Linked DNA regions of Homo sapiens. The protein of the gene in region 1 purifies or fractionates together with the protein of each later gene. This does not show direct contact. Each region holds a gene or a part of one and is shown on either strand. Other genes may lie near its edges.

What was found.
Region 2: the proteins of ROBO1 (region 1) and ARPP19 fractionate together in Homo sapiens (co-fractionation; one large-scale study listed by BioGRID). This does not show direct contact.
Region 3: the proteins of ROBO1 (region 1) and ANKRD22 purify together in Homo sapiens (co-immunoprecipitation; one large-scale study listed by IntAct). This does not show direct contact.
Region 4: the proteins of ROBO1 (region 1) and SSTR2 purify together in Homo sapiens (co-immunoprecipitation; one large-scale study listed by IntAct). This does not show direct contact.

What each region holds. Positions count from the first base shown.
Region 1 is NC_000003.12:78,664,851-78,671,132, reverse strand, and holds part of ROBO1 (roundabout homolog 1 isoform a precursor), read left to right. Parts: intron 1-831; coding exon 832-1,037; intron 1,038-2,567; coding exon 2,568-2,649; intron 2,650-2,830; coding exon 2,831-2,999; intron 3,000-3,083; coding exon 3,084-3,250; intron 3,251-6,282. UniProt on the Homo sapiens protein: Receptor for SLIT1 and SLIT2 that mediates cellular responses to molecular guidance cues in cellular migration, including axonal navigation at the ventral midline of the neural tube and projection of axons to different regions during neuronal development.
Region 2 is NC_000015.10:52,554,466-52,560,747, reverse strand, and holds part of ARPP19 (cAMP-regulated phosphoprotein 19), read left to right. Parts: intron 1-3,525; coding exon 3,526-3,648; intron 3,649-6,282. UniProt on the Homo sapiens protein: Protein phosphatase inhibitor that specifically inhibits protein phosphatase 2A (PP2A) during mitosis. Inhibition of PP2A is enhanced when ARPP19 is phosphorylated.
Region 3 is NC_000010.11:88,840,381-88,846,662, reverse strand, and holds part of ANKRD22 (ankyrin repeat domain-containing protein 22), read left to right. Parts: intron 1-6,282.
Region 4 is NC_000017.11:73,166,774-73,173,055, forward strand, and holds part of SSTR2 (somatostatin receptor type 2), read left to right. Parts: intron 1-2,454; 5' UTR 2,455-2,546; coding exon 2,547-3,656; 3' UTR 3,657-6,282.

The DNA.
Region 1 (6,282 bases):
TTGTATTTACACATAATAAAATTGCCTCTCGTTGTTATTTTCCGTAGTATGTTATAACTATTATCTAAGGTAACGGAGTTAGCAGAGGCACATTCCCAATCCCATTAATCCCAATAGAGAAGTATGGTGTTTGCCAAGTTAGAACATCATTTTGACTTGTCTCTTTGGATCAGCCAAACAACAATGTATTTGGGCAATTTTCCAATTTCTTTGAATTCATTACAGTTGGGTAATTTTCTCCCATGTATATTGTAATAGAAAGAATTACAAGATAAAAAGACACAGGGAACTCAATCACACTGATTTATTAAATTACGAAATCCAATGCACTTTTTTGGATCCAAAATTGTTAAACATGCTGGTATGGTACCTTGTTTCTTTTTTTCTGTTGTACAAGTTATGAAATGTCAATTTGGCTTTGCTTCATTTATTAAAATTTATCTCATATGTTTCCTTGAGAGGAATGGTCTTTTTGTTATGTTGTGTTTTTTCATGTTTTTGAGTTTAAAAAGTACAGTATTCCATGATCACGTCTCTGTATCTACTTCACCATCCACAATCCTAATTCCCGAACTCTTTAAATAGGCCTCTTGACGATGCAGCCAGCTCAGTGAGTGGCTGGTCATTTGAAAGTAGCACATTGTGTCTCATTTTAGTATTCTGAATCAGTGCATCATATAAATGCATTTTGAATAATGCATGTCTGCTACTTTAATTACTTGTTTAATTATCTTTAGTTTGTTTCAAAGCCTAGAACAACTGCTGTTGCTTGGATGATTAGAAAATTGCTTCCAGTTGCAGAAATCTATTTCCTGTTGTTTCTTCTGGCAGTGATTGCAGATCGGCCTCCCCCAGTTATTCGACAAGGTCCTGTGAATCAGACTGTAGCCGTGGATGGCACTTTCGTCCTCAGCTGTGTGGCCACAGGCAGTCCAGTGCCCACCATTCTGTGGAGAAAGGATGGAGTCCTCGTTTCAACCCAAGACTCTCGAATCAAACAGTTGGAGAATGGAGTACTGCAGATCCGATATGCTAAGGTAACTTGGAATGGCACCTTGCGTTTCTTGTTTTGTTTCACTTTGTTTCTGCCTCCAACAACTGGCATTGAAATTTCTAACTTTGCAATTAATGAAGTGTTAAATGAAGAGTAGTAATATATTTTTAATTTGATGTTTTATTTTTTTCAGATATTTCATTGTATATGTTTGAGATGATTTAACTCATAATTTAGTCCATGGCAGGTAATTTAAGGTTGTATGGAGGAGAAGAAAGGATTTCTAAGAACCTACCGAGGAAAGTAAATGAGGGTTTGTGAGAGAATAAATATCTTCAAAGTAGTGGTACGAAGCAGTCCTTCCATAAAGCATCTTTTAAGATATTTACCTGTATCATTTTATGTGCAATATATTTAGATAGTTCTTCTATTGTAAGTGTTTGTTTCAGCATTTTGCAATGGCAAAACTATACATGCAAACAAAAGCCATAAAGCAATGTACACACCGAGTGTACAATTCAAATCAGAATGCTCAATGATGGAAAGCCCACAGGTCTGTAGGAACCATTTAAGGATTTACTTTCACAGGGCATCATATCCCATGCCTGCTCTTTCAGGACTTTATTGTTTTGATTTTTCTTCTTTTTTTATGTCAAGATCAGACGAGCTCCTGAGGCATATGAAAGAATAGTCCTGACAGCAATAAACATGAATTTCAGTTGCTTTATCTCCTAGTGTGGGTGGTTCCTTTGGAGTATTGGATCAGCATCACAGTTCACTTTAAGTGCCACAACAGTTAATATGTTGTGCTGCTTTGTGACTGTTGTGACTTGGTTCCTGCAATTGCCAGGGCAAGATGACAACATTCTTTCTTTATCAAATGTTACTTGAAGATAGTTATTAGCTTGAGCAGAAGTAGATGGGTTTATTATCCTGCTGCTGATTTCAAAGTTGAACATGTAACCTATGTTTGCCTTCTGACATTCAGTTTTTAAAAGGGAGCGAGAGTGTTCGTTCCAGCTTGAGTTTGGCTTTGTACTTCTTAAACTGCCTTAAGTTACAAGTTTTAAAACCCGGAAAAGTCAGTAGTTTAAGAAAAAAATTCTATGATGCCTATCCTTTTTCTGTTGATCTCATATATCCATATAGTTAAATATATAAGTAAAATATGAAATAGCAAGAATAGGCATTGGTTAAACTTTATCAGCCTTATTATATAACTTATTAAACATAAAGATATATCTTAGCCATAAATATTAACGCTCTAAATTTGAAGAATTGTATGCCTTACCTTAGGAATTATTGTCCCTGAGACTGATGATAATATATGCTAATGCAATTAAATATTTCTTATTATACCATTAGAACAATCATATAAAATCTTTTTTTCTATATTGATGTAATATTTTCCTTCACATTCAATAAAAATATATTCAACTAAGGGGAAGTTTCTGGTTAGTGAATTTTAATGCAGTTATCCATATTCATGGATCATATACAAACCTGTAATTGCTTTTCCAGCCCAGTGAGTTCTTGATTTTTCCAAATATTTATTTTTTGTCTGCCTTCTCAGCTGGGTGATACTGGTCGGTACACCTGCATTGCATCAACCCCCAGTGGTGAAGCAACATGGAGTGCTTACATTGAAGTTCAAGGTAAAGTAAATGGTGTGTTTCCCTTAAAGTGAAGCTTAAAATGCAGTTGTTTACTTACTGGGATATTGATGAAGTAAATGTCCTCTTCCCTGAGTAGGTGTATGAATATGTTATCTGCATTTATCCGCTTATCTGTGTATGTGTAAACATCTTTTATTTTGGCCTTTTTCCTGCTTTTTAGAATTTGGAGTTCCAGTTCAGCCTCCAAGACCTACTGACCCAAATTTAATCCCTAGTGCCCCATCAAAACCTGAAGTGACAGATGTCAGCAGAAATACAGTCACATTATCGTGGCAACCAAATTTGAATTCAGGAGCAACTCCAACATCTTATATTATAGAAGCCTTCAGGTAGAGTGAAGGAGATGCTTCCTAGTTGTTCTTTTTTGATTCTCCATTAAATACGCATGTTCTAACCTGTGTGTCTATCCTTAGCCATGCATCTGGTAGCAGCTGGCAGACCGTAGCAGAGAATGTGAAAACAGAAACATCTGCCATTAAAGGACTCAAACCTAATGCAATTTACCTTTTCCTTGTGAGGGCAGCTAATGCATATGGAATTAGTGATCCAAGCCAAATATCAGATCCAGTGAAAACACAAGGTAAATATTGATTTACTTAAACCTGTGACACCTACTTATCCTTAGATGTTATAATTGCACTGACAAATCACTTGTGCTACATGCTAGAATTGTACATTTACAGTGTGTTGTTCAAGTTGCCCAAGTTGCTTAATTAATTTTTAATATACAAACACAATGTCTACAAACTTTATTATTTTCTGGACTAAGCATACCAACATAAGATGGATTAACAAAGAGAACTGTTTCTCATAAAATTACAAATATATCAAGACAAAAATATTACGTGAGGAGATGGAAAGTAGAATGATGGTTACCAGAGGCTGGGAAGGGTAGTAGGGTGGCTGTGGGGAGGGTGGGGATGGTTAACGGGTACAAAAAAAAGAATAGTTAGATCTAATGAATAAGATCTAGTATTAGATAGCAACAAGGTGACTGCAGTCAATAATAATTTATTGTACATTTTTAAATAAAGTATAACTGGAATGTTTGTAACACAAACAAAGGATAAATGATTGAGGTGATAGATACCCCATTTACCCTGATGTGATTATTATGCCCTGTATGCCTATATCAAAATACCTCATGTACCCATAAATATATACACCTGTTAGTACCCATAAATTTTAAAAATATGTGAATATTTGTGTATTCTATTCAATTTCCTGAATTTTAAATATGGTAACATGTAGGTGTACAATCTTAATCATATTATAATTGTATTTAAAATTAACCAAATTTTATTTATTTATAAGTTCAGTACTCACAACCTTCTGGATGAATTTTTAGATTACAACCCTAATCAAATAATACTCTCTTGAGATCACATAAATATGAGAGATATCTGGATACCTTTTATTTTTGGAAAAAAATCACGTCATTGTAAATAAAATGTGCTTGTTTTTATATTAGTAAAGAAAGGTAATTCTAGAGGGGAGTGATTCGAACTATAAAATTATTTTCTCAACATACAGAGGGATAGTGTTTCTATCTTAAGGGAACAAAGGAAAAAAGAAAAAAAAATAGACTTGGTTATTTTAATAGAAACAAGTTATACACAAGATGACTGAGACTTAAAGTCCTTTGCTGCTGGTTTGGGAGAGGGGTCTGCCAGCCATGTTGCTGTTTTGTTACTTCAAGTATGTACAGAAACAGTCTTTTTGGAAGCACTTTTTGTTTCAGAATTTGCAGAAAAAGCACACCAAGTTGTAGAACATGCCCACGTTTGTCTCTTGTGTGAATGTAACACACCCATAGCTCATATTTGCTATTATGAATCACCTCTCCAGGAGCTTTACTATACTTGCAGCCTGCCTTAAGGCAGTCTGAGGTTTTTGATATTAGATACACATTTGTAAAGAATGTAGACCCAATGATAGCTATAAAATGAATTTAAACTTTTGTCCCCAGTACAGTGGTCTCCAGCCAGTAGACTCTAACTGAAAGGTTTTGATGACTAGAGCTTAACACCGTTTTGTCCTGTACTCACATGCATGATTCTGGAATATGTAACCTCATTTGTAAGTGAGCAGTAAGTTAGCATTCTGTCTGAACATTCATTTAGTCTTTTTAACATTTCTGTCAATTTGCCTTTGCATATGCATAGCTAGTGGAACAATGTATTAGTCTCTTCTCACGCTGCTAATAAAGAACTTCCCCGAGACTGGGCAGTTTATAAAGGAAAGAGGTTTAATTGACTCACAGTTCAGCATGGCTGGGGAAGCCTCAGAAAACTTACAATCATGGCAGAAGGGGAAAGAAACACGTCCCGGTTCACATGGTGGCAGCAAGAGGTGCCGAGCAAAAGTGAGCAAAGCCCCTTATAAAACCATCGGGTCTCCTGAGAACTCACTCACTATCACGAGAACAGCAGCACGGGGTAACTACTCCATGATTCAGTTACCTCCTACCGAGACCCTCCCGTGACACATGGGGATTAGGAGAACTACAGTTCAAGATGAGATTTGGGTGAGGACACAGCCAAACCACATCACTCTAAGTATAATGAATCCTTGTTAACTGGAATACTGGAAATATAGAGAAACAGGCATACAGTTGTGAAATCAAAGACTTTTTTTTTTTAAATTTCAGCTCCTCAATCCACTAGCTGTGTGACCTTGAGCAAGCTAGTCAGCCCTTCTGAGTTTCCTCACCTATAAAATGGGGCTAAACATACCCATTCCTCGGGATTGGACAAAGAATACATTAACCAATCAATATATAAGTATATAAGATTCAGATTTGTTTTCTGTTTTATCCCATAAAATCTGTTATTGGACTTGTATTTCTTTTAGTGTCAGGACTAAAAGTAAAGGAAGTTCATAAAATTTGTGGATGTCGTAAAACTGAGAAAGACAGCTAGTATGCCAAATAAGAGAATCAGAATTAAATATAACTCAACAGATTGGACTGATGGGAGAGTGCTAACTATTAAAGTTAATAGAGCAAATTAAAAAGTCTGGTACTTGAACTTGGGTTTAAAAAATTAGCTGTAAAAGGATAGACTAAAGACAGCAGGCTTACGGGAAGTATATGTGAGTGTGTCAGGGCTTTCGGAGTGATCTGACTTTAAAATAAAACACCCATCTGAACCGACTGACGGATACAGTTGCCAAGAGAACAAATGTAGTCTTAGCTGGCACTAGAATTATGCCTGGATCAAGTAATTTTTCTCTTTTTACTTAGAACTATTCAGTTCATGAATGGAGTAATGTGTTTGTTCTGGAGACTACATTTTCAGATGGACTTTTAAGAGGAGGACAGTAGGGATAGTCGATGAGGCCGCATGAAAGGCTGAAAATCACATCATATGAAAAGACATTCAAGGATCTAGGTATGATTAGGCCAGAAAATAATAACATCAGAGCAGACATGACATCTTTTCCTTAACATTTTAAGAGACTGCCGTATGGAAGAGTTATGCTTATTCTAGCTCGAGGCAACAGAAAAGGGCCCATGAGAAGAAGTAAAATTGAGGCACATATCTTGCCTATTCTTGGACTTCATTTGAGGCTGGAAGCCTTGGATTATAACTGTAATAAGAACCTGGGGAA
Region 2 (6,282 bases), on another chromosome or scaffold:
TGCCGTTGACAGAACCTAATAAGAACTCAGTAACTGTCAGAATATTAATGCATGTCCAAGCACTTGAACTAACTTATCATTAAGGTCCTAGAACTGCCTAGCTCTGTAGAATGTTTCTGTAGGATTCATGAAAACTTTTGTGGAAGTCTTAATGGTGTTTACCACATTTAAAAATCTAGATTAGGTCATCTTTTCCCCCCTGTTAAATCCAACTGAAATTCTGAATCCAGTTAGGAAGTTGCAGCTAGCAGGGGCTTTCAGTTGTGCTATGTATTTGGCAAGAAAGTTCAAGAATCGGCTTGTTTTTTTCTAAGACATGTTATAAATTCATTCTAAATATAAATGACATTTGCAGCTCATAGATGCTGTTTTACCCAAACATTTTTTAATTTAATTAAGCATGCTTAATATGATATATCAATGTATTCCTTATTAAGAAAACAAGGGAATGCGGCTGGGCCCAGTGGCTCATGCCTGTGATCCAGCACTTTGGGAGGCCGAGGCGGGCAGATGACCTGGGGTCAGGAGTTCGAGACCAGCCTGGCCAACATGGCAAAAAAAAAAGAAAAAGAAAATAAGGGAATGCCCGGATTGTGTACAAGGTATTTTCCTTTATATATCAAATGGAGGAAACCTGCAGAAACACTGGAAACCAGAGTAAGTTGCTACCTACATACAATTTTCCTTTAAAAATTTTTAAGGAATTCGGGGAACTATTAGACTTGGAGAACTATTTCAAATCAAAGGAAGAAGTGGAGAGCTCTCACTTCCTAGGCTCAAGAAAGCTGAATTTTTATTGGAAATGTAGGACTCCAGTAACACCCTTAATTTGAAGGTGCAGGGACTAAAGGGTGACAATTAGCTTGGGATCCTTTTCAGCCAAAATTATTTGAAGCCAGCTGTGCAGGGAAACCCAAGAGTAGGCCTCTCCTCCCACATCCACTTCTAAACTGCAGCACTGAGAACACCCTTGGGCTGCAGTAGATATCTGCAGTGAGGGCTGAGCCACATCGAAGCTGTGCAGTGACTCAGCCCGCCTTCCTACATTAAACTTGGTAATCTTACATTTATGTTTATTTCTCTGGCTTTGGTGATGAATATGGTATAGTCATATCTTACATGGGGTTAGGTTCTAATGTTAGTAAGGGAAAAAAATCACATATAGCTAAAATCACCCTTGACAAAATTCTAGAGAAGGCATAATCATATTGGAGACTGCCCCATCAATTCTCAGTAGAGCAGGTAGTCACTTTTATGTCCAGCGTTTGAACAGATGGCTAGATGGCTAGGGTGATTCTTAAGTTGAGTGCTAGCTAAGGTAATAGGCTTGTATTGTACGGGCTGAGATTTTAAACACTGCAATGATAAACAGCATGTTGATGTACTTATGCTCTGCAAGATACCCAACGAGAGACTAACGTGGGAATGGCAGGTTTGCATCACATACCTCACACTTACCTCTCTGGAGCATACCCTTCTTGAATGGAATGACTGGTAGACTCACCACTATTTAAATTCTCTATTTCTGGCTAAGTGCACATAATTGAATGTCGTGCATGTCAAGTGAGTGAATGACGTGGCCACTGTAAAGAGATAACATAAATGGATGAATCTGCAACATAAAAAGAGGCTCCACAGAAAACAGTATTTGACAGAAGCAGCTTTTTTCTCAAAATTCTCCGAGACTGAAAATGAGAAGATCTAACAACAAATGAAGAAGCAGTTCAGGATGAAATACTGATAATATATAAAGTGAATGAAGCTGATTATAAAACATGTATGAGAGCTGGATGTGGTGGTGCATGCCTATAATCCCAGCACATTGGGAGGCTGAGGTGAGAGGATAGCTTTGAGGCCAGGAGTTCAAGACCAGTTTGGGCAATATGGCCTGACCTGTAATTTTTTCCCCCCCGTGGGTACAAAGGGAAGGGAAACAGGATCTTCATCTTTTTTTTTTTTTTTTAATGTATGAATATAATTTTGAGTGAAATATATGCCAAAATTTTATGAAGTTTTTTTTTCTTTCAGTGCTTAGATAGATAAATGGTTTGCTTGCTATATAAGAACATAGGTTTGACATTTATGGATTTAACATTCCTGCTTTGACTATTCCTAAGTAACCTGGAAGGCTCAAGATAGGCAGAGGTATGTGATTTTGCTGATTTAATGTGCAGAAATGAGTCCATTACTTAGAAAATGTGCCTTGCCAGCTGCCCGGTTTATCTATCTCAGTACAGCTTTTTCTCTTTCTCTTTTTCTTTCTTTTTTTTTTTTTTTCTGTTTTGTTTTGAGACAAGTTCTCGCTAGACCTGGGTATGCACCCAGGCTAGAGTGCAGTGGTGTGATCATGACTCACTGCAGCCTCAACCTTCCATGCTTAAGCAGTCATTTTGCCTCAGCCTTTTGAGTAGCTGGAACCACAGACATGTACCATCATGCCCGGCTAATTTTTAAACTTTTTTACAAAGGTTGGGTTTTGTCCATATTGCCCAGGCTGGTCTCGAACTACTAGCTTCAAGCAATCCGCCCACAGCTCCCAAAGTGTTGGGATTACAGGAGTGAGCCACCGTGCCCAGTCTGTTTTTCTTGATTAATTCTTCTGCAGTACTTGCCATGAAGTAATAAACACTCCTTCCCTATTAAATATAGCACTTTGAAAGAAAGCAGACTAAATCAAGACTGTTGTTCAAAGTGAATAGATGGAAGAATTGATAGTTCTGTCAGGAAACAGGTTTTTGATATATTAAAGAATAGGATGTTTGACATGAACAGAGTTTGTCATTTTAAACATGGGGGAGAGTTAGGCAATGATATACATAGATGTGAGGATTGACAAAAATGATGTTTCTCTTCTTTAAAAATAACAGGATGGGCCAGGCATGGTGGGTCATGCCTGTAATCCTATGACTTTGGGAGGTCGAGGCAGGATTGTTTGAGCCCAGGAGTTCAAGACCAGCCTAGGCAATATAGCAAGACCCCATCTCTATTATTTAAAATAATAAAAATATTAAAAATTTATTATAAAAAAACAAATATCAGGATCATCTGTATTCAAGAAAAATGTACTGATAAGTAGGCTGCTGTTAATTTCTAGTAAAGAATCTAACTTCAAATCATACATAATTTTAGATAAATAGAAAAAATTCTGTATATTTTAACAGTATTAGGATGATTCTCTAAATATAGGCAAAGAACTGAAGAGTTCCATAGAAGGTGACTAACTATAAATGTATTATACATGACTGGAAAAGTAATGGCAAGCAAGACTTCAGAGCTGAGCTATCTTGATATTTTTATCCAGTGTGTGGGGTGTTACACATGCATCACAGCTATAATAGAGCTATCACATGGATCTTTTGAAAAACAAGATAGAGATGTTTTAAAGGCTTCTGGGTTTGATTTCTTAGTCAGATGCTGTGGTACTTGGCATTTAACAACTAGAATTCAGAATCCAGATTTTTAAAGGTGAATTATTTTAAATAACTGAGTTGTAATAGAGAAGTAATTTATTTGAAATTATTTTAGGAAATGGAAGATAAAGTGACTAGTCCAGAGAAAGCAGAAGAAGCAAAATTAAAAGCAAGATATCCTCATCTGGGACAAAAGCCTGGAGGTTCAGATTTCTTAAGGAAACGGTTGCAGAAAGGGGTAAGTTCTCATGGGTAATTTCCAAATACTTAAGCCCTACAAACTCAGTATGCTGACAGATTGTGAAACGGATATCTGTGCGTATAGCATTGTACTTTATCAGGTATGTACATATGTGTATATGTATCTGTAATGGGTTTTTCCAATATTTTGCAGTTTATAAATAAGCATTGTGAGAATCTACAACTCTTCAGCATTTTTAATAATAAACTATTTAAAGCATGTAGAAATAGTGCAGATATAACAGAACCCATATACCCCTTCCCAGATTTAATGTTTATATTTTGCCATGTTGGTTTCAGTTTTATCTTTCTTAAGAAAGAAAATGTTGTAGATACTGTTGAAACCCACCCTATATGTAAATATGAGCCCTTTCCCTTATCTCTCCAAAAGCAGCCACTATCCAGAAGCTGGTGTTTATCCTTCTGCCCATATTTTGAAACTTCCATATTTTTTGCAGGTGATTCCCACACAACATTCAAAAGCTTAAAATACTTATTTGGATGAAATGATCACTTAATAAATGCACAGCTATCTCCTTTATGTAATATGTTTCACAGTCAGATTTACTCTAATACAATTTAAACATTTTCATTTTCATAGTTCAAATTACTGAAGATATTATTTTCAAATTCTTGCCATGTTTTGCGAGGTAGATACCATTATTTCTCAATAATGAGATTGAGATAATGCTGGCCTGTTTGTTCCCTAAGTATTGTCCTGTGACCCCTTCCTTTGCTGTAAAAAATTAGAGAGTTCCATCTTCAGCTTAAGCATATTCAAATTACTTACTATACAGGGAAGGATGAAATACTACTTACGGAAGAGAATTGTTGAATGAGATGCTAAATCATGTTTCTCCTTAAATACATTCATATACTGATATCGGCTCCTTGCTTAAAACACGTCTGTGTGTGTATTAGCTCTAGGTACATATGGATTGTTTTAAAGTGGCAAAAAATAGAATGGTATTTTTAATCTTACATGAAAGAATAATATTCACAGCTTTGAAATACTAGGATGATGGAATAATGACACCAAATTTATGAAGATGTAAAACTCCCGTACCATGAAATATATAATCAAGTAGGGAAGTTATTACAAAAATGTTAGTTAATGTCTAAAATACATACAGAAACTTTTAAATATATGAAAGGGAACTTTTAAGTGTACAAGAAAAACACTTAAGGTGCTCCTGGATAAAGGATTTTAACAGGAAATATAAAAAACAGAGAAATGTTTATATATTATAGACATCAGTGAAATGCAAATTACATCATAGTATTTATATAACTAAATTGCAAAAATGTTTAAAATAATACCTATTGCTAAGGTTGAAGTTGAATGAAACTAATATGCTCTTTGTTGTGTTTAAACATTAAAAATTATTACTCGTTTCAGAACAGGGTATGGATTAAGGTTTATAAAAATGTTCTTCAAATCAATAATCTCTTATTTATTAATCTAAGAGTATAATTCAGTACAAGGAAAGTCTTCCAAGTTGGAAGGTCCTCCTTATAGCTTATAACTATAATTAGTAGCAGCACCACTATTCAACAGCAGAGAAATGATTAAATAAATTGAAGTAAGTCAATAAAATAGTATTATGTGGTTATTTTAGAACATAAAGATCATAATATAGGGGATAAATAGAAGAAGTAGAATGACAACTGTGTTTTTAGTTATGAGATAAATTATTTAATCTTTGGCTATTAAATTATTTTGATTTGATTATTGTTTAGGAAATATTTTCTTTGCTAATCTCCAGCATAACCTTGGCTAATAGGCTTTCTTCCAACATTGGGCCAATTGTCACTGTAATTTTTCTCTAGCTTGAACTATTTATTTTTAAGTATCTTCAAGTCAGATTTCATATACATTGTATCTTGGAGTTGGTGTTGTAGATATAAATAGTTGAGAATGAAGAAAATGCTACTGAATCAAGAAATAAGTAGATAGAATTTGAGAAGTGAGCTCTTTAATGATTCTGTATTATAACAGAATGTCAGTGAATAAGTTATTTTATATGAAGTTTTGATTTTTTTTAAAACTCTGGATCACAGGTTCTGGGTTTTAATTTTCCTCTATCACTAGTTAGCAAACTTGACAAATTACCTTAGCATCTTTAAGTAGCTTCTTAATTTGAGAAGGTTTGATTAGATATTATGATTATTATAATAGGTCTCTTCTTGTGTTGTACTCATTAATGTTATTATGAGGTTAATGTTATTATTAGGCTTTTAACAATATGACTGTGTACACATGACTACATAGATTATCAGAGCTGGGAGGGATATCAAGAAGCTGTGTGGCCTGTTTTTACATTTTTTATTTCTTTTTGCTTTTTGTTTTGTTTTTTCATATTTGTAGGGGTTGTGAAGTCCCTAGAAAACAGAGAATCCAGTTGTAAGAAACATGGCTTTAAAGTTGAACATTACCACTTTAGGTGATCACTTAGTGTCAGTGTAGTTGTAAATGCTGATGTAAGTATGGCCCATAAATTTGTGTGAGAGGAGGCTTTTATAAGATTGTCATCTAGATCATAATTAATTTTTAAATATTTTCATTACAAACTCATGAAATTTAGAGATTGTTAAAGACATATCATCATCGTTGTTATCTGTGGATCCCAAT
Region 3 (6,282 bases), on another chromosome or scaffold:
CTATTTTCAAAGAGTAAATTTCTTACTAGTCCATTATCATGCTAACAAAAGGCATGGGTCACCAGGGACATCTTTTGTGATTGTTTTCACAACATTTTGTAGCAATGGCTCATGCTCACTGCAGGGAAGCTGGACTGGATGAAGGCTGCAAGATTTTGTTATTCCTTGACAACTTTTATGCTTATTCTTCAGCTAAAATTCTCATCAAAAGTAATACTTATTCCATGTGCTTTTCCCCAAATGTGACTTTATTAATTTAGCCATGTGAGAATGGTGTCCTTAGATCAATCAGTGTAAATATAAAACATTTTCGTAAACAGTATGTTATCAGCAGTGAACATAGGTGTGGGTGTTTCGCATAAAGGATGTTGTATATGCTGTTGCCAATGCTTGTAATGCAGTAACTAAAGACAGTTGTGCATACCTGGCATAACCTCTGTCCTGCAACTATGTTCAGTAAGTATTATAAATAAAGTGACTTTGAATGATTCTGTATGTCAAATGAGAAAAAAAAAAGATGTCTGACCATACATACGCAAAAAAAAGTACCTTCAGAGTCCACCAGTAAGTTGGAAGAAGTTGATATTGAAGAAATTTTTAACACTGATAATGAGGCTCCAGTTGTTCATTTATTAACCAATGGTGAAATAGCTGAAATGGTTCTGAATCAAGATGATTGTGATAATAGCAATAATGACGATGGTGGTTAACACTGTAAAGACTTTGTCAGGGGCCAGATCAGGCAGGTCTTGTAGGCCAAGGTGAAAAATTTAGATTTTATGCAAAACACAATGGAAAGCGGGTAAAGGATCTTAAGAGAGGAATAATATGACCATTAGGGTTTAAAAAGGCCACTCTGGTAGCATGGGAGAATAAATTTGAGAGATGCCAGAGGGAAAGCTGGATCTTGGAAGGAAGCTGTTACAGTAGTTTATGGAGTGATAATGATGGTTGCATTAGACTAATGGGTGAATTTTAGATAAATTTTTAACTAAAAGATTTCCTGGTTTGTAGGTTGGCAGTGAAGGAAAGTAAGAAATTAAAGTTGATACTCAGTATTCTGCCTTAGGCCAGCCAGTGGATGGTGGTGCTGATGAGATGGGAACACTCAGAGAGGGGCAGAAGGAAAGACACATTTCAGGGTTCTATTTGGACATGGTACTTTAGCGATATCCATGAGACATCTAGGTGGGGATGGAAGATGAATACAGGAAATGTACCTTTAAGGAGAGGCTCGGGCAAGAGATAATAATTTAGGAGTTGTCTGCATATACATGGTATTTAACGCCAAGAGAAGGGATGAGTTTAGACATGGAAAGAATGTAGAGATAGCAAAGGATACCAGGTCATTGTAGGAAGGTATGGTCTTGCCAGAGAAGGAAGGCAATATTAAAGGACAACCTCCTTTGAGCACCCTTGGAGCTTGTAACACTCAAGAAACATACGCATTTAGTCAAACAGGAGATTTTCTGGGGTTGAGGGGGAAACACATTTTTCTTTATTCAACATTGAAAACTTAGGGAGTTTCAACTTTTGTATGTGAAGTGAGCTGATCAGCACCAAAAGTGGTGAGGAGAAGTGAGTTTCTCAAGTTTTGTAAGAGGACAGGACAAGACAAAAACAGCTTGTGCCCCAGAAGTTCTCCTTGTCTAAGAGCCCACAGCAGGAATGTATAATTGTTAAGAAGCCAGCTAAGAAGCCAGCTGTTGAGCTCAGAAAGACAGGTTCAAAGCTCATCTCCACTATTATCAAGGAGAAAGTGGGAGAGAAAAAAATCCCCGAATAAACTTGTTTTCTAAGGGGAAAAATAAGTCATTTTATTTGTATATGCCTTCTACAATATAAGCTTTTATTTCATATATGTGTGCATATCTATTGAAATAACAAATAATTTTCAGCTAGAAAAATTGTGGCTTTTTTTTAATCAACTAAGGAAATCCCACTTGTAATTTTAAAGGAAATCTAGATTATCTGAGATGAGATAAGAAGGCATAAAAGGGATCTTTTACTTTTAACCATAAAGATTCCTTAGATTCTAAACAATAATTACTTTAATTAAAAATCTGTAATGTTTACTTATGTTATAGAAACAGCTCTTGATACATAGCTCCCCTAATCTTAAAGTTATTAAGATTAGAAATACCTTTTTTGGAAAACTGAAAAAGAGATGAGAATGGGAGGCGTTTACTATTTGGAAACCCATAAAGTACTATTTAATACAACAAAATGGTTTACATACTAATTAACTGGGAAGTCTTAACACTAACTTTCTAAACTGAAGGTAGATTTTGTCAAAACTCTGCTAACATTTCCCATCAAACATAAAATAAAATTCAAAGTCCTAACCATGGTCTACGAGACCCAATTTTCCTTGGTCCCATTTGCTTCCCAAATTTCCCGCCACTCCCCTTGCTCATGCAGCCATGCTGACCTTCCTGCTATTCCTAGAACACATCAAATCGAGCTCTTGTCTCAAAGGGCTTGACAGTTGGATTCCCTTTGTCTGGAAGTTTCTTCCTCCTGAAAGTTACCTGGCTCATTCCTTCACTTAAGACAGATCATGGATCTCTGCTTGAATCTCACCTTCAAGAGATCTAAAAGAGTGGCTTTGTCATTCTTTATGTATTCTCTTACTGTGCTTTACTGAAGTATTATAATTTTTAAAAATGTCGGGTTTGTTAGATGAAAGTGGATTTGAGAGTCCTATGTGTTATGATTTTTATGATTCCCAGTTTGCAGGTTGCCGAAGAGAAAGGTATAATGATAGCTTCCCTGACCTAAATGTCGGTTTAATAAACATGTGTCTATCTTGTAGAAAATAATATAGTAGGTTATGTGAGAGTTACAAGAATGTAAGAATAAAACATTTGTTTTCTCCAAAGAATTTACTGCAGTCATAAGGCCAGACACAAATAATTCTCCCAATGAAATCCCTTGTGGGAAATTCTTGATGTTAGTTGATTTCTAATTTGCCACAACTCAACTTTCCTGCCTTTAATGGTCAAATTTATTTTAATTGGACTTTATAGTAATAACCAAAAACTTACTTGTTACACTGAAATAATACAACTAATCCTGGAACCCTAAAGTCCACACCCTTTTTTAGCTAATTGGTGCCACTAAAGTAAACAATTTTGAAAAATGAAAAAGATGCTAATTGCCTTGATGCACCATCAGACCACATGAATCTTCAGAATCAAGCAAGCATTTCTGCAAAGGCAACGTTTTCTCCCAACATGCTTAAGATTAGGCGTGATGAGGATTTGAAAGGGGATTTTAGCACTATGGTTTTGTGGCTTTACCAACAGTTGACCTTTGGCAGGTATCAAGATCATATTATGCTTAAAACAAGGTGGGATGAGGTCTTTCAGCAACCTCAGGACTTCCCGTTTCTATATATGTGAATGAGAATTTCTTCCGCCACAGAATATTCAAGACACAAGGAATTGGAGGTAAGAGTTGATTTTAGGAAAAGGAGGTGAAGTAGATGGCAGGCAAGAGAAGAAGCTTTTATAGAGAAGCCTTCCTTGAGAAAAGTAAATGAAGATGAGGTCAAGAAACAGTGGCTTCAGAGCTGCACGCTAATGGAAGTCAGCCCCTACCTGGGAAGTAGTGGTAATTTCTGGGACATAAAATCAGAAAGTCATCATACATTTGAATGAAGGACCAGAGAGGAAAAAAATAATTGTCTTCAGTATTAGTATGATCCAAAATGGAGTAAAAACTATTTGCAAATATATTATTGAAACTGCAAATCACAGTAGACCTATAAAATTTCCTGTAAGCAAGAATTGGCAAGTAACAATTCATAACACTATGTCTATTATTACCACATTACAATGTGTGAAATGTTACTGATATTTTTTTCCTGTCATTATTTTTCCAAGTATGTGAAACATTTATAGTTGTTTTTATAGGTTCACTTACATGCTAGTCCTCTAATCCAAATTCTTTAACTGAATTTAAGGGGATTTTAGTAATTTTGTTAACTCTGCAGATGCTTGGGAAGGTTTGTCGTATAACATGATACAGAATGTGATGAATGCTATTATGTACCTCTTGTGAGTATCTACTGGGTTTTCATCATCTCTGTATCCCTAGAGCCTAGCACAGTTCTCTTGGAAAGTATTGAGATCTCAAAGTCTGTTGAATTGAATTGAAGAAAATAATCAAGGACTATAGGCACTCCTGGAACTTTTGTGGGTAGAGTTTATTATAAATTAGTGCATGGAGTTGCATAGGAGTGGAGAGAGGCTTAATGGGTTAAAACACTGGTTCTGGAGTTAGATAGACCAGAGTATAAATTCTAGTTATGCTACTCACTAGCTATAAAGAGCTCTGAGCCTGTTTTCTCATCTGTAAAGAGGGATAATATTATTTTTGTTCTAAGATTGCTGTAAGGGTTAAATGAGATGCTGCTAAGGTGCTTAGCATTACAGATGGTATATAAAAAGAGTTCAGTATATAGTAGGTATTATTACTGTGAAACTTTTTACTGTTATTTTTTATTTTTCCCAAAGGAGACTTACATTTAGAGATTTAGTGCTAAAATACCTGTTTAGGTCCATTAAATGTTTAGAGACATTGGCTGCTGAGAGTTCAAATCCTGGGCCCTTCCCCAGCCAAACTGTCTTCTACGTTAAGAATAAGACAGTGTAGAAAAGTCTTGGGATGTCAAAAGGTAAAATGAGGCACGGTTAAGCTCAAAAGAATTTATTTGAGCAAATACCGATTCAGGAATTGGACAGCTGTGGTTTGCAGGCTTTTTGGAGGGAATGCAAGGAGAAGGCTTTTATAGGGTGAAAAAGGGAGTAAAGCACAGAAAATATTTGATTGGTTGCAGTTATAGAGTTGCTTTATTTGGTCGATTCTGCTGGAAAGTCTCTATGTAAGTTAGGCTTCTGATTAGTTAACTTGGTTTCATTTTTCTTTAATATAGGGATTTATAAGAAATAGCTGAAGTTAAGTTTTGCTTATGTTTGCAAATTGAGCAAGGTTAAGGTCACTTATGAGGTCTAAATGGATTTGTCTGGCCCAGAGATTCTTCAAGCCTGGTCTCCATTATAACTTACTTTAACGGAAATATATGCCAGTTCCTGTTGCTGGTGTATTGGAGCAGGCTGGAGCTGGCTTGAGTCAGCTTGAACTGGTTTGTGAAAGCCAATTTTGCTCAACTCTGAGTTCGTTGCTCTCTCTTTTGTAGGTTGAAACTAGCCAGGTGGGAGTGGTTACACCAATGAAATGGAAGAAGACCACAAAGGTTTTCTTTCTTTCTTTTTTTTTCTCTTACTCCCTCCTTTTGTAGAACTGGATGTTACCTAGTTATGGGCACCCTACTGCCTTCTCTCTTCTCTGTGAATACCTCTGTGGTGGTCTGAGGTAGTAGGGGAATATCAGGGCTTCTGATTTGCCATTTTCTAGCAGCCAGAACCCACTCTTCCTCCACCCTTACTCCTCGCTGGAGGTGAAGGATCTTCTGCTTTCCCCTGGTCCTCATGACCTCAGAGTTTCTGATGTCCTGGAGTCAGAAGTGTGGCAATGGGGTTTTTTTAGCTTCCTGGCAAGGAACATAACTTCATGTTCTCAAACAGACCTTTCAGGATAAAGAGTAGAAAACATAGATCAATATGTGCCCTGCTTCTATTTCCCCTTCTGCTATCGTTCATGAGGAACTATGACTTCTCTACACGTTCCAGCCAGTGGTGGGACCTTCCTCCATGTTACACAGAGACGGAGTGGGCCTAGAACAGCCTTTAAAAAATTATTGCGACTTTTTTATTTGTCTGAAAGAAGACATTTCCTAAGGAATTTATAAAATACAGTATGTGAAGAGTGAGTTATCAGAAACAAAGGCTTGGGATTAATTGTAGAAATCAAATTAAACCCAATAGGTTTTTATTATCATTCTCCAAGGTTTCTTAACTTGAAGAGAAAGAAAAACATCTTCCTTCCTTTTCTGAGAAGACATTTCGTGAATCACAAGGCTCTTTACCGGAATCATTTTGCTCCAAAACCTACAAATCCTTCTCAGAAGTTTTCATGGAACATTTTAAGTGAGGGGAGCTTGTAGCATGGAGATGGCTAATAAACAGTGAACCAATTCCTCTGAGCCACAGGCAAAGTTCTACACAGTCTTTCCTTAGATTGGGAATTACAGAAGCTCCATTATACTTTAGGGAAAACAACACTAAAAAGTGGGGGTAATTTGGGGGAAGCTTTGCTTTTAAAGACATCCATAGTGGTACAAGTTGTTCAGATGTTTCTACACTATTAAAATAACAA
Region 4 (6,282 bases), on another chromosome or scaffold:
AGCCGGCTCCCCAGCCTCCCACCTCCACCACCTTCACCAAGACTCTGAACCCTGTCTGTTGCTACCATTAAGCAATTCTGTCCTGTTGACTCAAACTCCAGTTAAAATGACCGAGTTAGGGCTGGAAAGCAACACTCAACCCTCTCTCATACTCCCTGCACCATCATCGTTCCTAGCCCAAAAGCTCTTAGACAGGGGCTCTGCCAACCCAGGGGGATTCCGTGTTACTCAGACATTGGAGTGTGACCATTCATGTTATATAGATGGGCCCCTGGAAATCCCCATGATAAGGTACACTCTGATTGCAGGCAGCTTGAATAGGATTCTGGCTCTGTAGAATTAAACCAACTGACCAGATGGTTAGAAGTGATAACGAAACTACCCAAGTTAATCCAGGGATACTAACCACAGTTTCTGTACAGCTTCTGTTTTAATTGCTGCCAGTCTATGCTTTTTTACGCAATGCAGACATGAAATTCCAGGTGCCTCAAATACTTCACAAAATGGTCAGCCACAAAGCCCAGATCTCACTTCACAGACAGTTGTGTGGTAGGGAAATGAGCACAGAAGGAACGAGCAATGCACCTGGCAGTTCAGAATCAATCAGAAGCAAAGGTGAGCAAGGATCCTCAAGTACTTGTTGCTGGCCAAGTCTCCTTTAACTGATCTGCAGTCTTTCCAAGGATTAAGAAGTAATCTTCCATCTACACCCAGGCACCAGGAAAAGGACCTAGCTCAGGGGAAATGTGTCAGCCAAGTGAATTAGTCCCACTCTGCTGAACACACCACCCTTTGAACATCTCGCCTCTTCCTAGATTGGCCTCTTTGCTGTCCTCCTGCTTCACTCTTCATATACCCAAGACCCAGCTCAAACACTTCTCTTTGGAAGCCTCCTCTGAGTCCCCCAGGAAAGGAAGGCATTCTTAAGTCCTTCATTTATCTCTCGTGCAATGCCCACCCTATATGAGCTGGCTTCCTTTCCTATCTCCCCTTTTAAATTATCACCTCCTAGAGGGCACTGGCCAAGTTTGTTCATTTCTACATCCCTGCTGTCAGCACAAAGAAGCCTCCTCTCCAGGCCCCCAACCCCCGTGATATTTTTTGAATGGCTGTATATCAATCATTTAATTATGGGATGAACTATTGTTTTAGATCTTAAGCCAAGCCAATAGTGCTCCAATTATTTTCTCAGCAAGGAAGTAACACAGGAGTCAGTTGCTTCAAACCAAAGCCCAGTTATCAGCCGTTCGGTCTCTAGGCCACTGAGGAGCAGAGGGGATGCCTTGAGACGTGCAAAAGACTTGGGGCCAGGTGGCCTGTGTTCACATCCCAGCTCCACCAATTATGTGCAAGAGAATGGGGTGAGCTCCTTAAACTCTCTTAAGCCTCAGTTTCCACATCTCTAAAATGGGGGTAATTATCCCTACCACCTAGGACAGTTGGGGAGATCAAGGGACTCGTGAGTGTGAATGAATTATATCAGTACTGGAAGCCTTCTGCTTACTTCTGTGAAAGAGCTTGTGTCCCACACCTGCTTCCCGTTTTTGTCCGTAATTAGAAAATGGCAGGCAAATTCTCTGGAGTGTTACAGCACTTGGGAGCAGCATCCCCTTAGGGACTTTGGGAAAGAGCTCTTGAGGAAGTCAAGCATTAGGTATTGGAAAACAAAAATAGAAGAAAAACAAAAAATAAACTGAAGCCTACATTTCAAAAATGAAAGCAAACCAGACTTTTATTTTTAATACTGAAGACTATAAATTGTTTCACCACGTAGGTAGATTTCAATAAATCAGAGATAATGAGATGGTAGAGGAAAACATGGGGGGAAACAACTTACGAGGTTCCCATTATGAGCCCAACGCAAGGCTAGGCATTTTCACATATATTCCATCATTTAACCTTCATGACGCCCCCATGTGAAGAAATAAGAGTCAGAACCATTAAGGACCAGGCATGTGGTCACACGGGCTCAGCAGTGGAACCCGGTTTGTTCTGCCTCTAGAGTCTGGGTTTTTTCCACTATGGCATTTTCAGAATGGAAAGACTCCAAGGCAGTCAGCAAGTCAGCATAGATTTCCTGGTAGGGAAGAGGCCAGGAATGTCAGTGTCAGACCCTTCTGAGGTCAGGCGCTGAACTTCTCCAAGCTCTGCCTTTCTGCAGTTTAGATCAGTCAACTTCTTAGGGGTCAAAGTATGTGCTTTTTGAAGCCACAGCCCTCCCCGACATGTGCGTCAGCAGATGATGGCTGAACCCAAACCCTTCCCTACTATTGGAAAAACAACTCAAAAAGTCTGCACACTGATGAGGAACTCTAGAGCTTAATGTTGATGTGGAAAGATAATACATTTTTCAATTTAAGAGTATGTCTGAGAGGCTAAACCAGAAATGTGTAAATTTGGTGAGACTTTAAACAGCCTGTGACCGACGGGCCAATCTTCCTCTTTTCCTTCCAGATGTCACACTGGATCCTTGGCCTCCAGGGTCCATTAAGGTGAGAATAAGATCTCTGGGCTGGCTGGAACTAGCCTAAGACTGAAAAGCAGCCATGGACATGGCGGATGAGCCACTCAATGGAAGCCACACATGGCTATCCATTCCATTTGACCTCAATGGCTCTGTGGTGTCAACCAACACCTCAAACCAGACAGAGCCGTACTATGACCTGACAAGCAATGCAGTCCTCACATTCATCTATTTTGTGGTCTGCATCATTGGGTTGTGTGGCAACACACTTGTCATTTATGTCATCCTCCGCTATGCCAAGATGAAGACCATCACCAACATTTACATCCTCAACCTGGCCATCGCAGATGAGCTCTTCATGCTGGGTCTGCCTTTCTTGGCTATGCAGGTGGCTCTGGTCCACTGGCCCTTTGGCAAGGCCATTTGCCGGGTGGTCATGACTGTGGATGGCATCAATCAGTTCACCAGCATCTTCTGCCTGACAGTCATGAGCATCGACCGATACCTGGCTGTGGTCCACCCCATCAAGTCGGCCAAGTGGAGGAGACCCCGGACGGCCAAGATGATCACCATGGCTGTGTGGGGAGTCTCTCTGCTGGTCATCTTGCCCATCATGATATATGCTGGGCTCCGGAGCAACCAGTGGGGGAGAAGCAGCTGCACCATCAACTGGCCAGGTGAATCTGGGGCTTGGTACACAGGGTTCATCATCTACACTTTCATTCTGGGGTTCCTGGTACCCCTCACCATCATCTGTCTTTGCTACCTGTTCATTATCATCAAGGTGAAGTCCTCTGGAATCCGAGTGGGCTCCTCTAAGAGGAAGAAGTCTGAGAAGAAGGTCACCCGAATGGTGTCCATCGTGGTGGCTGTCTTCATCTTCTGCTGGCTTCCCTTCTACATATTCAACGTTTCTTCCGTCTCCATGGCCATCAGCCCCACCCCAGCCCTTAAAGGCATGTTTGACTTTGTGGTGGTCCTCACCTATGCTAACAGCTGTGCCAACCCTATCCTATATGCCTTCTTGTCTGACAACTTCAAGAAGAGCTTCCAGAATGTCCTCTGCTTGGTCAAGGTGAGCGGCACAGATGATGGGGAGCGGAGTGACAGTAAGCAGGACAAATCCCGGCTGAATGAGACCACGGAGACCCAGAGGACCCTCCTCAATGGAGACCTCCAAACCAGTATCTGAACTGCTTGGGGGGTGGGAAAGAACCAAGCCATGCTCTGTCTACTGGCAATGGGCTCCCTACCCACACTGGCTTCCTGCCTCCCACCCCTCACACCTGGCTTCTAGAATAGAGGATTGCTCAGCATGAGTCCAATTCAGAGAACGGTGTTTGAGTCAGCTTGTCTGATTGAATGATAATGTGCTAAATTGATTACCTCCCCCTTAAAGCGAACACTGAAATGCAGGTAGACAATTCAAAGTCTGGAGAAGAGGGATCATGCCTGGATATGATCTTTAGAAACAACAAAAATAGAAAAAAATAAGTATCTGTGTGTTTGTGTATTGAAAACTCAATATGTAATCTTGTGTTTTTATATGTATACTTGTATATTCCTATTTATTCTCTGTATAGGCATTACCTACGTTCCTGTGTTTACATACACAAGTAGCAAATTCGAGTATGCATAGTGTAGATGGACATTTGCCACAACACACTGCCCGCAGAAATGGACTTACCGTGAAGCCAATAAAGTTCAAGCTTCAGGGATCTCTCTTGCACGGGCCTTGCCAAGGCCCAGGAGGGACTTGGGCAGTATGTTCATGTGGTCATATGTTTTTGTAAAAAATTGTGAAAGTAAGATATGTTTGTATTGTTTTTCTTAAAGAGGAACCTCGTATAAGCTTCAAGCCTCACAAACCTTCTAGCCTCTGCCCTTGGGGATTTGCTTCATTAATTTCAGGCAAGTGAGGTCAATGTAAGAAGGGAAAGGGAGAAGATATTTGAAGAACCAGAATGTAAATTCATGTGTTTCCACTTCTCAGATATAGTCAGAGAATTATTCATTTGCCCAAAAGGACTTAAGTGGTTGTGGTCATCCATCATTGTATTTATCAAGACAAAGCCAACTTTGTTATAAGATTGCATTTTTTTCTTTTCAAATTGCTTTAGTTTTTCTTAGGGAGCTATGAGGGGGAAAAATCACTAACATGAAAGGCAAAAAATGGACTATGATTCCTGTGGGGAAACAATTTCATTCTCTCCATCGTGAAAATAAGTGAATAAGAGTGAAGCAAAATTACACCTTTATGAGAAACCATAAAATTGTTTTTATTTTTCAGGCCAGACATAGCTTCCTAATGAAAGAAAATGGAAATGTAATTCGACGACTCCTCAAAGGGGACTTTAGAGGACTTCATACAAAGCTGGGCATTAAGAAAACCACAATGCATGGCCGGGCGTGGTGGCTTACACCTGTAATCCCAGCACTTTGGGAGGCCGAGGTGGGTGGATCACCCGAGGTCAGGAGTTCGAGACCAGCCTGGCCAACATGGTGAAACCCCATCACTACTAAAAATATGTAAATTAGTCGGGCGTGGTGTCACGTGCCTGTAATCCTAGCTGCTCGGGAGGCTGAGGCAGGAGAATCACTTGAACTTGGGAGGTGGAGGTTGCAGTAAGCTGAGATTGTGCCACTGCACTCTAGCCTGAGCAACAAGAGCAAAACTCAGTCTCAAAAAAAAAAAAAAAAAAAAAAAAAAAAAAAAAAAAGGAAAACCACAATGCGTACTAAAGACCAGAAGACATTGTTCACAAAACAAAAGCACCCTCACCTGCCAATGAATATGCAGCGTGCAGGGGGTGTGGTGTGAGTGTTGGTGGGGCCCCACCTCTCGGAGATACTGCTGTGCTGCCTTCCTCACTGACTGTATACATAGTAACTGTCATATCTTTAATGCCATGGACTCACTGAGCCGCTCTGCAAGGACTATTGTAGACAGGCACTTCACACCATAAAGTGGCATTTTTTTCGTTCCCCAAACTGACATTTACAAGCGATAAGAAAAGAGACAATATCCATTTCATTGACTGATCATTTTCTAGAGTATGAAGAAATACACACCTGGGTGTCTGCAAGGATGTCATCATCTTTGGGTTTCATCTGAGAGCATCACTCAGCATCTCACACATAGATGTTACCATATTTTTAAATGAGCTTTCCTCATCCGGCTCCCTAAGCAAGCGCTGTTGGCCGGTGGGAGTGACTAAGTGCTCCACCTGTGGGTGTCCTTCTTAATGTGCTGCTTTTGTTCTGTATAAATTCACACCACCTCACTCCCAAAAGTACTTCCTGTGGCTCAGAAAAATATGTTCAATAAGATTTTGGATAGATAAATCCATACAAAAATAAAAAGAGGTATAGTTATAAAACAAGACTACAGAAAAAGTTGTGGCAGAAATTGCATGCAGGAAAATCCCACACCATTAGTAAAAGTAAGGTCAACTGTAAGTTCAGCTCAGGGCTTCCTAGCAGCCATGTTTAGCGAAGTGTGATTTTTTTTTTTAAACAAAAACAAGCAAAGATTTGGAAGAAAATGCTTTAGACCTAACTTTACAATTATTATAACATAAGATGTTCCAGGGTCCTTGAATAAATGCTGAGTTTTAGGGAAATGATTCCAAGGGACCAAGAATTGGTAGAAATAATTTCAAGGCAGAGAAGACTAATTCTACAGGCCGGGCGTGGTGGCTTATGCCTGTAATCCCACACTTTGGGAGGCTGAGGTGGGTGGATTGCCTGAGGTCAAGAGTTCAAGACCAGCCTGGCCAACATGGTGAAACCCTGTCTCTACTAAAAATACAAAAAAT